Homo sapiens: one gene and its partner. The protein of the gene in region 2 purifies or fractionates together with the protein of the main gene of each other region. This does not show direct contact. Each region holds a gene or a part of one and is shown on either strand. Other genes may lie near its edges.

What was found. The genes of interacting proteins can lie anywhere in the genome.
Region 1: the proteins of WTAP (region 2) and CPSF6 purify together in Homo sapiens (affinity purification with mass spectrometry; 2 studies listed by BioGRID and IntAct, with this or other methods). This does not show direct contact.

The regions. Positions count from the first base shown.
Region 1 is NC_000012.12:69,253,069-69,256,568, reverse strand, and holds part of CPSF6 (cleavage and polyadenylation specificity factor subunit 6), read right to left. Parts: coding exon 3,415-3,500; intron 1-3,414. UniProt on the Homo sapiens protein: Component of the cleavage factor Im (CFIm) complex that functions as an activator of the pre-mRNA 3'-end cleavage and polyadenylation processing required for the maturation of pre-mRNA into functional mRNAs.
Region 2 is NC_000006.12:159,734,006-159,737,505, reverse strand, and holds part of WTAP (pre-mRNA-splicing regulator WTAP), read right to left. Parts: intron 1,249-3,500; coding exon of another isoform or gene 1,241-1,248; coding exon 1,211-1,240; intron 1-1,210. UniProt on the Homo sapiens protein: Associated component of the WMM complex, a complex that mediates N6-methyladenosine (m6A) methylation of RNAs, a modification that plays a role in the efficiency of mRNA splicing and RNA processing.

The DNA of each region.
Region 1 (3,500 bases), on a different chromosome or scaffold from region 2:
TAATCCCAGCTGCTTAGAAGGTTGAGGCACGAGGATTGCTTGAGCCCAGGAGTTTGAGGCTACAGTAACCTATAATCACACTACTGCACTCCAGCCTGGGCAACACAGTGAGATCCTGTCTCTAAAAATAAATAATTTTAAAAACTAAAAATATTTCTTAACTATACGAGTACACATTTTTGTTCATCTTGTATAACATACCATAGAATTCAGTCATTCAAAATATATAATTCAGTGGTTTTTAGTATTTCACAGTGTTATAACCACCACCATAATCAATTTTAAAACATTTTCATCACCCCAAAAAGAAACTCCATATCCATTAGCCATCGCTCCCATTCCTTCCCATCCCTGTACCCTATGGAACCACTAAACCTAATTTCTGTCTCTGGACTGGCCTATCCTAGACATTTCATCTAAATGGAATCATACAATAGGAGGTCCCTTGTGACCAGCCTTCTTTAACTAGCATGTTTTCAAGCTTCATCCACTGTTACAGCATGCATCACCACTTACTTTTATGGGTGAATAATTTTCCATTATAAATATACAACATTAAAAGAAATGTATCCATCAGTTCATGGACATTTGGGTTGCTTCCACTTTTTGCTACAATAAAAAGATGTACAATATCATTAACTATTGGGGAAGTGCAAATCAAAACCACAAGATACCACCCCATACCCACTAGGGTGGCTATAATCAAAAAGACAAGTATTAAAGATGTGGAGAGGCCGGGTGCAGTGGCTCACGCCTATAATCTCAGCACTTTGGGAGGCCAAGGCAGGAGGATCATGAGGTCAGGAGTTCAAGACCAGCCTGACCAACATGGTGAAACCCCGTCTCTACTAAAAATTCAAAAATTAGCCAGGCATGGTGGCGTGTGCCTGTAGTCCCACGCTGGGAGGCTGAGACAGGAGAATCGCTTGAACCTGGGAGGCAGAAGTTGCAATGAGCCAAGATTGCGCCACTGCACTCCAGCCTGGGTGACAGAGTGAGACTCTGTCTCAATAAATAAATAAATAAATAAATATGTGGAGAAACTGGAACCATTGCACATTGCTGATGAGCACGTATTAATAAAATGGCACAATGCCTCTGGCAAATAATCTGGTAATTCCTCAAACATTTAAACATAGAGTTACTATATTAACCCAGTAATTCCATTCCTAGGTACACATCCAACAGAACTGAAAATACATGTTCACACAAAATGGGTACACAAATATTCACAGGGGCATTTTCCTTAATAGCCAAAAGTGGAAATAACCTAGACGTCCATCGACTGATAGATTAAAAGAAAAAAGTGCTATATCCATGTAGTGGAATATTACTCAGCCATAAAAAGAAATGCTGATGCATGCTTCAACATGGATGAACCTTAAAATCATTATGCTAAGGAAAAAAGCCAGTCACATAGGACTACGTATTTTATGATTCCATTTAGATGAAATGTCCAGAACAGGCATATCCAGAGCACGTTAGCAGTTGCCAGCAGATAGGAAGAGAGGAAATGGGAGTGACTGCTAACCAGGTACAAGGTTCCTTCTTGGAGTGATGAAATGTTCTGGAATGAGACAGTGGTAATGGTTGCTAAACTTCATAAATATAATAAATTATCATTGAATTGTACATTTAAAAGCCTGCATTTTATGGCATATGAATTATACCTCAAAAAGAAAAACAAATTTAAAATAATCAGAATGATTACCAATTCGTATAGTTACAGGATATTCTAAATTATTTGAGGGAGGGAGGGTCTTAGTAGCTTAAGAAGCTTAAGCTCTTTTCCCCCTAATGTTCAATATGATCTTTTAAATTATCCTTCTTATTTTAGTCAACAAGTTCTGCTGTTTGCACCAGGATTATCTTGGGTCACAACATTTAGAAAAAACTAAATTAATTTAACAAATATTTATTAAGCACCACTTCTTATACGCAAGGTACCATTCTAGAGCTGGAGAAGTAATAGAGAACAAAACAAAATCTCTGTTCTCATTAAGCTTAAAGGCTTGGAAGAGGAGACAACAAACGAGTAAAATATATCAGAGCAGAAATAAAGGAAACAGGATAGGAAGGTGCTACTTTGCACAAGATGGTCATGGAAGAAAACTCTTAAACAGTTTGAGTCCTGAATGAAGTCAAAGAGTAAGCCATGTGGATATTTGAGGGGGAAAAGTAAACCAAGAAGAGAAAACAGCTAAAGGTCCTAGGTAGGAATTGGTCTGGCCAACAGCAAAGAGACTAATGTGGCTGAAAAAGAGTGGTAGGATAGGGTTAGAAAGGTGGTGGGAAAACAGACCAGAAAGTACCTTGTAGACAATGGTAAAGAATGAGACAGACAGGAAACCATGAGAAGATTGAGCAGAATGTCATTTTTTTTTTAGAACTTCTGTTATGTGGAGTACAGACTGTAGGGGGCAGTCTATACTTCCAGTTAGGAAGCTACTGCCAAAGTTTAAGTGAGAGATGATAGTGGCTTTGACCAAGTGGTATAAGTAAAGTTAGTGAGAAGTATTCAGACTCTGCATATATTTTGAAAATATTCTCAGTTTAGTATAAATTGGTATAATCTTCTAAGATAAGTAAGCAATATAAGAAATAAGAAAATTCTTTATCATTGTGCATCTAACAATTTATCCTTAAAAGAAAATCCAAAATCTGTACCAAAAGACTTATATAAAATGATGTCTGCTGCAACATTATTTACAATAGGCAAAAGTGGAAACCACCACGATAACCAAAAATAAGAAAGGTAAATTACAGTAGCATACCAGGTATGATGCAAAAGAATTAGACATTAGAGAGGATGTGTATTTATTTTTATTCCTTATATCAAACATATAAAACACATGAATTATAATTCCATTATTTATTTATTTATTTATTTTTAGGAAAAAGCCCAAAAGAATCTTCACTAAAATGTTAAAAGTAAACATCAATGAATGGTAGGACAGTGGTATTTTATTTTCTTACTTTTAGATATCTGTATTTATAATGTTCTCATGCTGAGGCTATCCCACTTGTATAGTTTAGTAGTGAAATAAAGCAAAATATCCATGTAACACATTATTCAGTTGCCCATCTTCTCCCATCTCTTAATCACAGGGAGAGTAATGGTTCTTAAACTGTCATTTCAACAACCATTTCAACCACAGATAGAGAAAACTTGGGAAAAATAGAAAATAAATCTGTCCACATTTCCACTCTACTGGTTTTAGTGTGTTAGGTAATAGGGTACGTAAAATGAAAAGTATCAATCTTTGCCCAAGAACCTCCTTCCAATGTAAACAATCATGTGTTGTTTGTATACATGTGTATACATGTGTAATTAACATTAACTTAAAGGAAAGTTAACTTGTAAAAACTGTATCACTAGCTACTAAATCAAAAAGAAAGAAAAAAAAAACTTACCCCTTTGACTGGCCATTTGCCCGATTTTCAAAAAATTTTATCTCCAAAATATCATTTACTCCCAAAGAATGAACTGCTTCAGTTAA
Region 2 (3,500 bases):
TAAAAAATAAAAATAAAATAAAGGCTTTATTAGTATTCCCTTACAAGACACTTAAATTTTTTTCCTTAAAAATGTTTCAAATTATAATACTAACCAGTAAAATAGTATTACCATAAAATGGAACGAGGGAACTATTATAATGTAACATATTGAAAGGCTGCCAGAGGCAGCTCATGCCTATTATCCCAGCACTTTGGAAGGCAGAGGCAGGTGGCTATCTCTTGAGCCCGGGAGTTCGAGACCAGCCTGGGCAACATGGTAAAACCCCATCTCTACAAGAAATACAAAAATTAGCTGGGCGTGGTGGCACGTACTTGTAGCCCCCAGATACTCAGGAGGCCGAGGTGGGATGATCGCTTGAGCCCAGGAGGCGGAGACTGCAGTAAGCCAAGATTGCACCACTGCACTCCAACCTGGGCAAGAGAGCAAGACCCTGTTCCAAGGGAGGAAAATCAAAGGGTACCAGAGGGAGCACACAGTAATTCTCAGATTATGAAAGCATAATACAATCCTTTATTCATTTAATGAGTAATCTGACTCCACAATAGGAAACTTCTGTAATATCTAAATTATTCACTTAAATATTAAGTTTAGTAAGCTTTCCCAATTGAATCACAAATTCCTCCTAGAGACGATGTTACCTCTTTTATAACAGCCACTGTGTGTGTGTATGTGTGTGTATGTAAGAGTAATTAAACTCAAGGTAGGAATGCACAACAGGGGGAGATTTGAGACTAGACAACAAAACTTCAGAGAAAAAGGTAGAATTTGAAAATTAGCTATAACCATTTTTTTAATAAAGTAGTTTTTAATTACAATCAAAGGGATTTACACTAGGAAAAGAATAATAATATACTCATAATGTCCATTTTTGACATTATTTGTATATATGTACCTGGAAATATTTACATAATGAACATTAAGAGTAGACCTGGAAATATTCACATAATGAACATTAAGAGTAGACCATGGGAATATTATTATAACTAAAGTTTTCCAAAATCTGAAAATATTCTAAAAAATATACTGGATATAAGATACAATATCTGGCACACTGTACAACTCCAATGCTATTATTGTTATAAAGGCAAAGAAATGAAAAATAAGCAAACAACGATAATCCCTTCAAGTCTATTTTTTTTTAAAGTGCTTAAAAAAGCCCCCAAAAAACCCAAAACAAAACAAAAAAACCCAAAACCAAAACCCATACCTTCTTGGGAAGAGGTTCTTCGTTGGTCATCTTGAATCCTAAAAAAAAAAGTTGCGGAAAACAAGTTCAATTTATTTTCTTCCAGTGAAAGTAGGAATAAAAAATACTGACTCTTTCAAATCAATTTATTAGTGAACTAAATTACTGTTGAATAATTAGAATTTAAATAAACAATTTTAAAATAGTTTTAGATTTACAAAAAAGTGGCAAAGATATTACAGAGTTCCTATATACTCTGTACCCAGATCTTCCTTTGTTAACATCTTCCATCATTAGAGTTATTGGGTAGTTTTTACAAATTCCCTCGTAAAAAAGCTGATCAGCCATTCAAATCATTTGATGTCGCCATAAAGGGTGAAGAGAAATATAATGACCTCAAGTAGTATCCTACGCATGTTGCTAAGGGACTATAAAAGGGTAATACCAGTTTAAGTCTTTCCTTTTATAGCATTATGTTGTTAAAGTAAGGTAGTACCTACCACAGCCATAATTTACTACTGCCCAATAGTTTTTTAGATATATTATATATTTTATTTTTATTTTTTTTGAGACACAGTCTCACTCTGTCGCCCAGGATGGAGTGCAGTGGCGCGATCTCAGGTCACTGCAACCTCCGCCTCCAGGGTTCAAGCAATTCTCCTGCCTCAGCCCCCTAAATAGCTGGGACTACAGGTGCGTGCCACCACACCTGGCTCATTTTTGTATTTTTAGTAGAGACGGGGTTTCACCGTGTTGGTCAGGCTGGTCTCGAACTCCTGACATTGCAACCCGTCCGCCTTGGCCTCCCAAAGTGCTGGGATTACAGGAATGAACCACCACGCCCATCCTATTACATATTTTAAAATATATGTTACACTGGTTGGGCGTGATGGCTCACGACTGTAATCTCAGCATTTTGGGAGGCTGGTGGGTGGATCACTTGAGGTCAGAAGTTCAAGACAAGTCTGGCCAACATGGTGAAACTCGGTCTCTACCAAAAAATTAAAAAAATTAGCCCGGCGTAGTGGCACACGCCTGTAATCCCAGCTACTAGGGAGACTGAGGCAGGAATCGCCTGAACCTGGGAGGCGGAGGTTGCAGTGAGCCGAGATGGCGCGCCACTGCATTCCAGCCTGGGCAACAGAGACTCCATCTCAAACAAACAAACAACAAAAACTCACATACACATGTATGTCACACCTTAATAAAAATATTCCTACAGTATTTAATTTTATGCCAAATATTTTGTATCTCAAAATTAGCTTCTTTATTATACAAAATTCACTTAACCCTGTTTCAAAGATAGGTTAATGAATTCAAGTAGGGAACACTTTATTATGCTGTTTTTTAGAACGAATGCTAATAGCAGGTATTATTCATTAAACTACAAATCCACACACAAAAAAAAGACAAAGAAAAAATGTGTAATAAACATAAACACCACATTAAAATACAAGGTTGGAAAAAAAAGTATACGACATGAAGAGCTAACCTGACAAACATAAAATCTTTATATAAAAATTCTATGAGGATTAAAAAATTGAATCAGGGTTCTGAGTACCAGTGCTCTTTTGAAAAAGCATCTAAATTGCATTTGGCATATTCATAACTTATACAAATTAAGTAATTAGTTCTTATACTAATTTAGTTTTTCCTATTCTTTCTTTCTTAAGAGATGGGGACCCACCATAGTGCCCAGGCTAGTCTTGAACTCTTGGGCTCAAGTCATACTCTCATCTCAGCCTCCCAAGTAGCTAGAACTACCTGTGGAAGGATCACGCCCAGCCCTAGTTATTATTTCTAATAGTATACTCATGAATCTTCCCTTACTTTAAAGTGTTTATGGTTTATTTTAATTACCCATACTTATTATAAATTCTAAACTACTAGAAATTTGACCAAAAGCTTGGTATGTTAAACTGAATTTTTTTTTTTTTTTTTGAGATGGAGTCTCACTCTGTTGCCAGGCTGGAGTGCTGTGGCATCATCTCGAAAGCTACTTGAGGCTGGTGTGGTGGCTCACACTTGTAATCCCAGCACTTTGGGAGGCTGAGGCAGGAGAGCTGCTTGAGCCTAGGAGTTTGAACCGAGCCCGGGCAATGTGGTAAGACCCTGTCTCTCATTAAAACAAACAAACAAAACACACACACACCAAGACTACTTGATTTCTCCCACTTGATTTTGAGATTCCTCAAAAGGAGATAATCTTCCAACAGCATGTTTTATACTACGTACAATCTCAACTCCACTTTATAAATGAAACATTCTAATCATACTGTTATTAAACCCTGGTTTTCAGATTAAGTAAATT